Linked DNA regions of Homo sapiens. The protein of the gene in region 2 purifies or fractionates together with the protein of the main gene of each other region. This does not show direct contact. Each region holds a gene or a part of one and is shown on either strand. Other genes may lie near its edges.

Evidence for each region.
Region 1: the proteins of DPYD (region 2) and STX18 fractionate together in Homo sapiens (co-fractionation; one large-scale study listed by BioGRID). This does not show direct contact.

The regions. Positions count from the first base shown.
Region 1 is NC_000004.12:4,433,801-4,437,631, forward strand, and holds part of STX18 (syntaxin-18), read right to left. Parts: intron 1,059-3,831; coding exon 970-1,058; intron 1-969. UniProt on the Homo sapiens protein: Syntaxin that may be involved in targeting and fusion of Golgi-derived retrograde transport vesicles with the ER.
Region 2 is NC_000001.11:97,592,505-97,596,335, forward strand, and holds part of DPYD (dihydropyrimidine dehydrogenase [NADP(+)]), read right to left. Parts: intron 2,663-3,831; coding exon 2,555-2,662; intron 884-2,554; coding exon 714-883; intron 1-713.

The DNA.
Region 1 (3,831 bases), on a different chromosome or scaffold from region 2:
AGAAGCTCAAGGCTGGGGAAAGACTGGATCCCATTCTTCCTCAACAGAGCTGTCTTCATGCTCCACTCCTTATCTTCTTGAGGGCTGGAAATCCAGCTCTTCCCTGATTAACTAGGGGACTCTGGGCAAGACCCTTTGCTGCCTTTTGCCAATGTTAAAATGAGATGCTAATGTTCCACCACCTCTTTGTGCAATTATTAAAAGTATCATGGATAAAATGAGAATCAAAAAGTTTTGTCTACTGCAAACTGCTGCACACTTAAAATGCTATCACTTGCCAGGCACAGTCACTGGAGGCGTGCCGTGTGGTAGTCACATTCCCCACGTCTTAGAGGACAGTGTCACATCCTAGCAGCTCTAGGTGACATCTATTCCCACACACAGATAGCATATTCCATCTGGCTTCTGTCACACCAGTGTCCAGATGAGCTGCACACAGACATTGCTGGACGTGAGCTGGCAGGGGCTTGGCAGACCTATCAGTTCCTTTTGAAACCCACCCATAGATGGTAAGCTATAGCAGCTGGAAACCAGAAGGCAGGTAACTAAAAGGAGGTGCTATCAGTAGTTAAGGTGTTACTCTTTTCACTTTTCAGTCATTATCTTACTTTTTTCACATTACCATAGCACTAGCAATTCAAACAATTAAAAAGCATCATAGTGGCATTTATAAAAGACCCATTTAGTCTAGAAGACTATTTTACTGTTGTTGAAAAGACATCTATTATTAGTAAAATTCTTCCAAGGCAAAATGTCTTCTTTAATTATGCTACTGCAAATTTAAAGCATATGAAAAGCACCGTAAGAATTAGGAAATCAAATGGGAAAGTGTATATAAAATACACATTTATAATTTTTAAAACTCAGTATAAAAATAAGGGCAAGGGCATTGAGGATGAGTTTCTCCTTAGTGAAACAGTCTTATGAAAACCAGTTAAAAATAAATAATTAGGCAGAGAATAGCATTACCATTTGTATTTCTTCTGGGGATAACTCATCTTCGCCTTTGCCATCTCCCCACGTTCCCAATTCAGGTTGTGTTTCAGCCAAAATTTTTTCTGTTAAAAAAAAAATTGAAAATAGAAGACCAAATATGTGTTTTAGAATAGGCTGGCTTAGGATGTAGTCATAACACAAACAAGAGATTAAACAGAATCTTACAGCTTTGTCTATATATTTCATGATCTTTGGGCTAATATTCAGGCACTGCAGACATGATTCTTTCACAACATTTAGGCTTTAAATTGTCTTTGTGCAGGCACGTGCATGTGTGTGTGTGATGGGGAGGGGGACCTATGCACGGTTTCAGTATCGCACTGATGTCAGCAATGGCTGCAAACTAAATGGACATTATTCAGAATGTCTTCAGAATTCTTCAGAATGAGTCTTAAAGTATGTTTTACTTCAAGACACATACACCCCTGTCTACTTTTAAAGACTGTAAGACATATTTTTATTGTAAAAAATACATATGCATATATACATACATATATATATATATACAGGAAGTGATATACTGTTCTCCAATCCTATTCCTCTCCCAGATGTTACTGCTTTGATGTAGCTTCATAGATTTTATCTAAAGATATTCACATACAAAGATATATGAGTCCCTGTCTACCCATGAAATTCAAGTAATACACAGTTTTGTGTGTATGGCGGCTTGCTTTTCACACAGATATCAATAGTAACATGCTGTTCTAAAACTTGCTTTGTATGATTTATTGATACATCTTGGAGATGGTCCAAGTAGATCTACCTTGTTCTTTTAAATTGCTGCATGATATTCCATCGTGAGGATACACTGGTCTTTAGCCATAACTACGCTGACAGACCTCAGTGGTTTCAGACTGTTCACTGGTGTCATGGTACTGTGTCCCGGTCTGTGCTATGTGCACATGCTGGAGTGACTCTCTAGGACAGATACCTGGGCATGCAACTGCTGAAAGGGAGCGTAGGAACATTTTAATCTGGAGAACTTTTTCATTATGATCAAGGAAAGGTGATGCATCCTCCATTGAAGCATGTCAATACCACAGGCCCCTAGAAAGGACTGCTGCCGCCCAGGATGACGGTAAGAGGTCTGTGCAGTTCATCACCGGGGTAGGGTTGGGAGCGGAGGGGAGAGGGATGGCAGGGATGGATCCTCGGGGGAGACTGTAATGAAGTCACTTTGTGTCTGTGTCTCAGGGCTTATCAGTGAGCTTCCAAGTACTCAAAGGCAAATACTGCTTCTTTTTCCTTTTTTCCTCAATCTCAGTAAATTTCCTGTAGTCAGTCTCAGCCCCATGAGATGGCAACAAGTCCAGATCTTTAAATAGGGGAAGAGAACGTAATGATAGCAACAATGTAGAGAAAGCTCACTAGGCAGGCCATGCCTGAAAGTTATGGTTATTTATTAGAAATATATCTTTACAAAAAAAACTGCATGTCATCCACAACTTAGTGCATGCAGGCTTTTAGAAAAATGGCTGTTTTTACCAGAAGTGTCATTATAGAAAAACATGTGTTTGTAAAAGGTTGGCTAAAAGTATCTTTAGAAATGATCTGATATTTTCCTGAGATGACATTCTTTGGGTAGGAACATTTGTACTTTCATCTACCCCCCACCCCCACCTTATGAGCTGTCTCCTACTTGTCCTCATTATGGTATCCATTTCAAGCTTTTACTGTTGTTGATTTCTTTTTTAAGGAAAAAAACATCAAAATTAGAAACAGAAACCTTGTTCATATCTGAACCAAGCATAAATTAACTCTGAGCTAGAATGGGAAAGTTTTCTTAGCAGAACTCACACTCTACAACATGCTCATTTGTGGCCATCAGAAGCCTTCTTGATAGGCTGCCCTAAGGATCAGCCTGAAGCACAGCACCCACCATGCCAGTCCTCTGCCCAGGCCACCCGTGCACCCTGGTGCCACAGAGGCAAGTCCAGACTCCCTACTCTGGCATTCAAGGCCCTACCCACCCTTCCAAGCTTACTCCCACCTCTCCTCCCACTGATGGGCTTCACTGATCCCCACGGGTCTTCTTTACTGACTATATCCCACCCAATCTCCAGGCTTTCTGGCCTCTGAGCATTTGCTCATGCTGCTGCCTCTGTCTAGAACTTTCTAAGCTTTCATTTTTTATTTTTTCAGGTCCAGACTCACTTTTTTTTTTTTTTTTTTTTTTTTTTGAGACGGAATTTCGCTCTTGTTGCCCAGGCTGGAGTGCAATGGCACGATCTTGGCTCACTGCAACTTCCGCCTCCCAGGTTCAAGTGATTCTCCTGCCTCAGCCTCCCCAGTAGCTGGGATTACAGGCGTGTGCCACCACACCTGGCTAATTTTGTATTTTTAGTAGAGATGGGGTTTTTCCATGTTAGGCTGGTCTTGATGTCCTGACCTCAGGTGATCCAACCCGCCTTGGCCTCCCAAAGTGCTGGGATTACAGGTGTGAACCACTGCGCCTGGCCCAGACTCACTTCTTAGTGCCACCTCCTCTTGAAGTCTCCCTGGCCCTCTGCTCTCTCTTGAGGTACTACTTACTTTCTCCCAGGGGCTAGAGCCTTATCTTTCCCATCAACTGTGAGCTCCCTGAGGGCAGGAATCACATCCCTGAAACTTATTGAGCTCCAATGTGACACCCAAAGGAAATACTCATTGGAGCTTTCCAGATTTTAGTTTTCAGATTAGAGATGCTCAACTGGTAAGGACAATGCAAATATGCAAAAATTTGAAAAAACCCTAAATCCAAAACACTTCTGGTCCCAAGCATTTCAGATAAGAGATACTCAACCTGTAATTTCTGTGACATGTCCAGGACCATGCCTAGCATCTGGAAGACAAGAG
Region 2 (3,831 bases):
TACAGGCGCCCACCACCACGCCCGGCTAATTTTTTTGTATTTTTAGTAGAGACGGGGTTTCACCGTGTTAGTCAGGATGGTCTTGATCTCCTGACCTTGTGATCCGCCGGCCTCAGCCTCCCAAAGTGCTGGGATTACAGGCGTGAGCCACCGCGCACAGCCAAACGTTATTTTTAGTATGCTAACTAACTACTAATTTTGAGTAGTGCTTATATTAGAGCACTTTAAAAATATACATGACACCCTTTTCTTTCTATTTGCTTCACAAATAATGAACTGACTGAAAGTATGACCAAGGTATACATCTTAGAATGCAGTCTGTAAATTGGCTTACGGAAAATTCCGTATGTGTCTTATTACCACATTCTTCTAATATGCATACATTTTGTGAAGAGTACCTACTATTCAGGATATGGAAGACTTAGCACTTTACATTGTTACTAGTTACATAGAATACATTTCAAGCATATTAACACTAACAAGAAGCCCTTGAGTATTGACAAAGATTAAATTTCTCATTTTACCCAAATCAGTATTACAAATTTTCTTTTACTTGGAATGTCTGAATTAGAAAAGAAACAATTATGTGTAGCCCTGAAATTTTTAAACTTGAATTTGACAATTTCAACATTCTAGCGATTTAAACATTAACAGTTTCATCTCCTAAAATCTGTTGGAGTACAACTCCATATTTTCTGATGGTTCCATTTTACCTCCTCAGGGACAGCTCTTATATTAACAAAGCCTTTTCTGAAGACGATGAACACACGGCGAGCTCCACAACGTAGAGCAGATGTTGCACAGTCAAAGGCAGTGTCTCCAGCTCCAAGTACAATCACGACTCCCCGTATCGATGGCAATGGAGAGTGACAGGCGCACATTCCTGAATGATGAAAGGAAAACCCCATTTTCAAGTAGAGAAACCATTTCTGCATGACAGCTCAAAAGATACTTGTACTCAAAGCAGTGTAAAATTGCATCTTGCAGTTTTCCAGGATGAAGTGTCACTATCAAATTATTCTGCTTCATTGAAAGACAGTTTTATTCCCATTTTAAAAATATGCTCATATATGTAATTTCATAGTCAGTATCTTTAGTTTCTTTTTTCTTCTAGGATTCCTACAACACATTTTGAGAAGTTTAGGTCATAACAGACTGGAATCAATCAATTAAAACTCTCTTCATCAAAATTGTGCTATCTATCTTTAACTCAGCATAATTTTCCTTTTGCTAGAAGAAAAAAGTGATCCTTATGATCTGTGTTAACGGTTTGCAATATTTCATTATAATACTTTTTTATGTATTACCTTATATAATTTCTAACACATACCTCTGTTATATATTTTGTTAACTTTGAATATTAACGTGCTGAATAAGTGTCCTTTATGTAACTGAAGAATTTCTGAGAACTATTTTCTTGAAATAGTTCAAATAAATCTTTCTCCCTTTCACTGCTTTCCTCTGGTTTTGTTTGTGAAACTGGGCAGTAAAAGAAATATGACTTTCTAAGCATCCATTTCTCAAGGTCATCTCTATTAAGATTTGCTGTCCATATGAAGATCCTTGTAAAAAAAGTAAAATGCAAGTATTCCTTATGTGTTAGGTAGCAGTGTATAATAAGATTAAATAAAACTGTTTATAAGATCAATTACTATAATTTTTTAAATGGTACCAAGAATAGAATAAACCTATAATTTCAATAAGTGTAATCATTTTGCTTGGAAGATTTTGTATTTGGGACACTCTGTAATTTTCAAATACAAGCTAGGTGCACTATGACCTTCCTCAGAAAGGGTTTCAGACATACAAACATCCAGTTCTACTGAGAGGCAGAAGGTGGAGAGGGTATGCATCTTTAGCTGTAAACTTCTGAAGAATAATTTAATATAGAAAGTTTCTTACTGTTTTAAGTCCTGGGAGAAGCATAAAAGTTTGTATCATTTCTACATGTAATTAATGTAGGAATAGCTGTGGCTCAGACCTCTTTAAAAATATACATTTGAAGGATTTAGATTATCTGACTTTGGATAAAATATTACAATTTTCCCCAAAGACAATGACTCTGGTCAGGCCAAACCAAGGTACAACCTTCATTCAGGTGGTTCTTCTTGGGGTGTATAAAGTGATAGGGTGTCTATCAAAGTATTTTATTTTAACATCATAAAATTACTGTTTAAGAGAAGACAGTCAATCTTTCTGCCTGTGTAGATACAAATCATATAAGATATGTGACGATTCATGCCATTTCTTTGAAAAACATCTTCCAATGTTTGTTAAGGACTTGCTTACCTTGAAGCAATTTTTCATGATGTAGTTTAGACATATATATTACAGTGAAAATTCCTTACGATGATACTTTATTGGAAGAATGAACAAACAGATGATTCTGGCAAACTGTTATACCCGGCCTTTTTTTTTTTAATTTTACATTTGGGTCTTAGGCAAGGTTGGGTGTGAGAGCTGAACAATGTGCTGCTGAGCTTGATTTTGATATTAATTTATCATAAATAAAATAGCATACTCACTATTAAGCATAAAAGACAATATGTTATACCTGCTTTACTGCCTTTGGCTACAAGTGGCAAAAAGTCTTTGGATGTATAAAACCCCTGGTCCTGCGTCAGGCCTTGGAAGATGGCATCTTTATTGGGTTCTGGCAAACCTAAGTAATCAAATTTATAAAATATCATTAGCAGGAGGAGGGGCTTTTCCTATTAGATATTAAAACAAAAAAGAAAACTTTAATCTTTGAAATAATGTCATTCTTAGAGGAAAACATCTGTAAGCAAATCAATATAAAATGTACATAATACAGTCTAACGGATCTCAGAGTATATTATGTATATCTTTAATATATAACCAAGTACACATCGTAAATCACACATTAATGTATACCTATAAATATATGGAAACATATGTATATACACACATAAACATATATAACATTACAGGGAAAATCAGGTTATATTCTTGCCTCATATCATAAATAAGTCAGTTTCAGCTACATTAAAGTACTAAATATAAAAAAAGTTAAAAATGGGTACATATTTATCTAATTCCTGAATAAGTAAAATCATTTCTTTTTTAATGAAAGAAAAAAATTAAAGGAAAAAACAATGTATTTTGCCACAATAATTCAACCACTGCTAAATTTAAAAAATATAAATGAATTAAAACGAAAATTATTAACCAAGAAGATGTTTTAATAATTAAATGTCTTTACTGTATAAATTCTCCAAATCAGTAAGGAACATATTAGCTTTTCAATGGAAACATAAAGAATAATAAAAATTGGGAGAAGAAAAAATATAAATCACCTATAAGCACTAAAAATATTAACTCCATTAAGTCATTAAACTGCAAATTAAAAGAATAAAATTGTAACTTCTCTATAAAAAGAAAAATATTTAAGAAAATTAAACTATACACCAAGGGTAGACATGGAACTTGTCATACTCTTTCAGTGGAAATATACATTGGTGTTCAATATCTAGAAAATAGTCTTAAATCTATCTTAAGAAAATACTGACACATGCAAATAAAGGTTTAATGCACAAAAATGATTAATACAGAAAGAGGAAAATAAGATGAGAGAGTACCAGAATGTCAGGTAAATGAAGAAATTAGTTTTACCGTATAAAAGAAAAAGACAACAGAACGAATATTTGAGAAATATGGTATAAGATTGTAATCAAAATACAGTCTTAAATGAACCTGCAGGATTCAAAACTCTGTATAGTATAATTCAAATTTTGTAAAAAAATGTATTAATATAAACCATGTAATCTAAACAGAGATCATTTAGAGTGGTGGTATTAAGGATATTCCAAT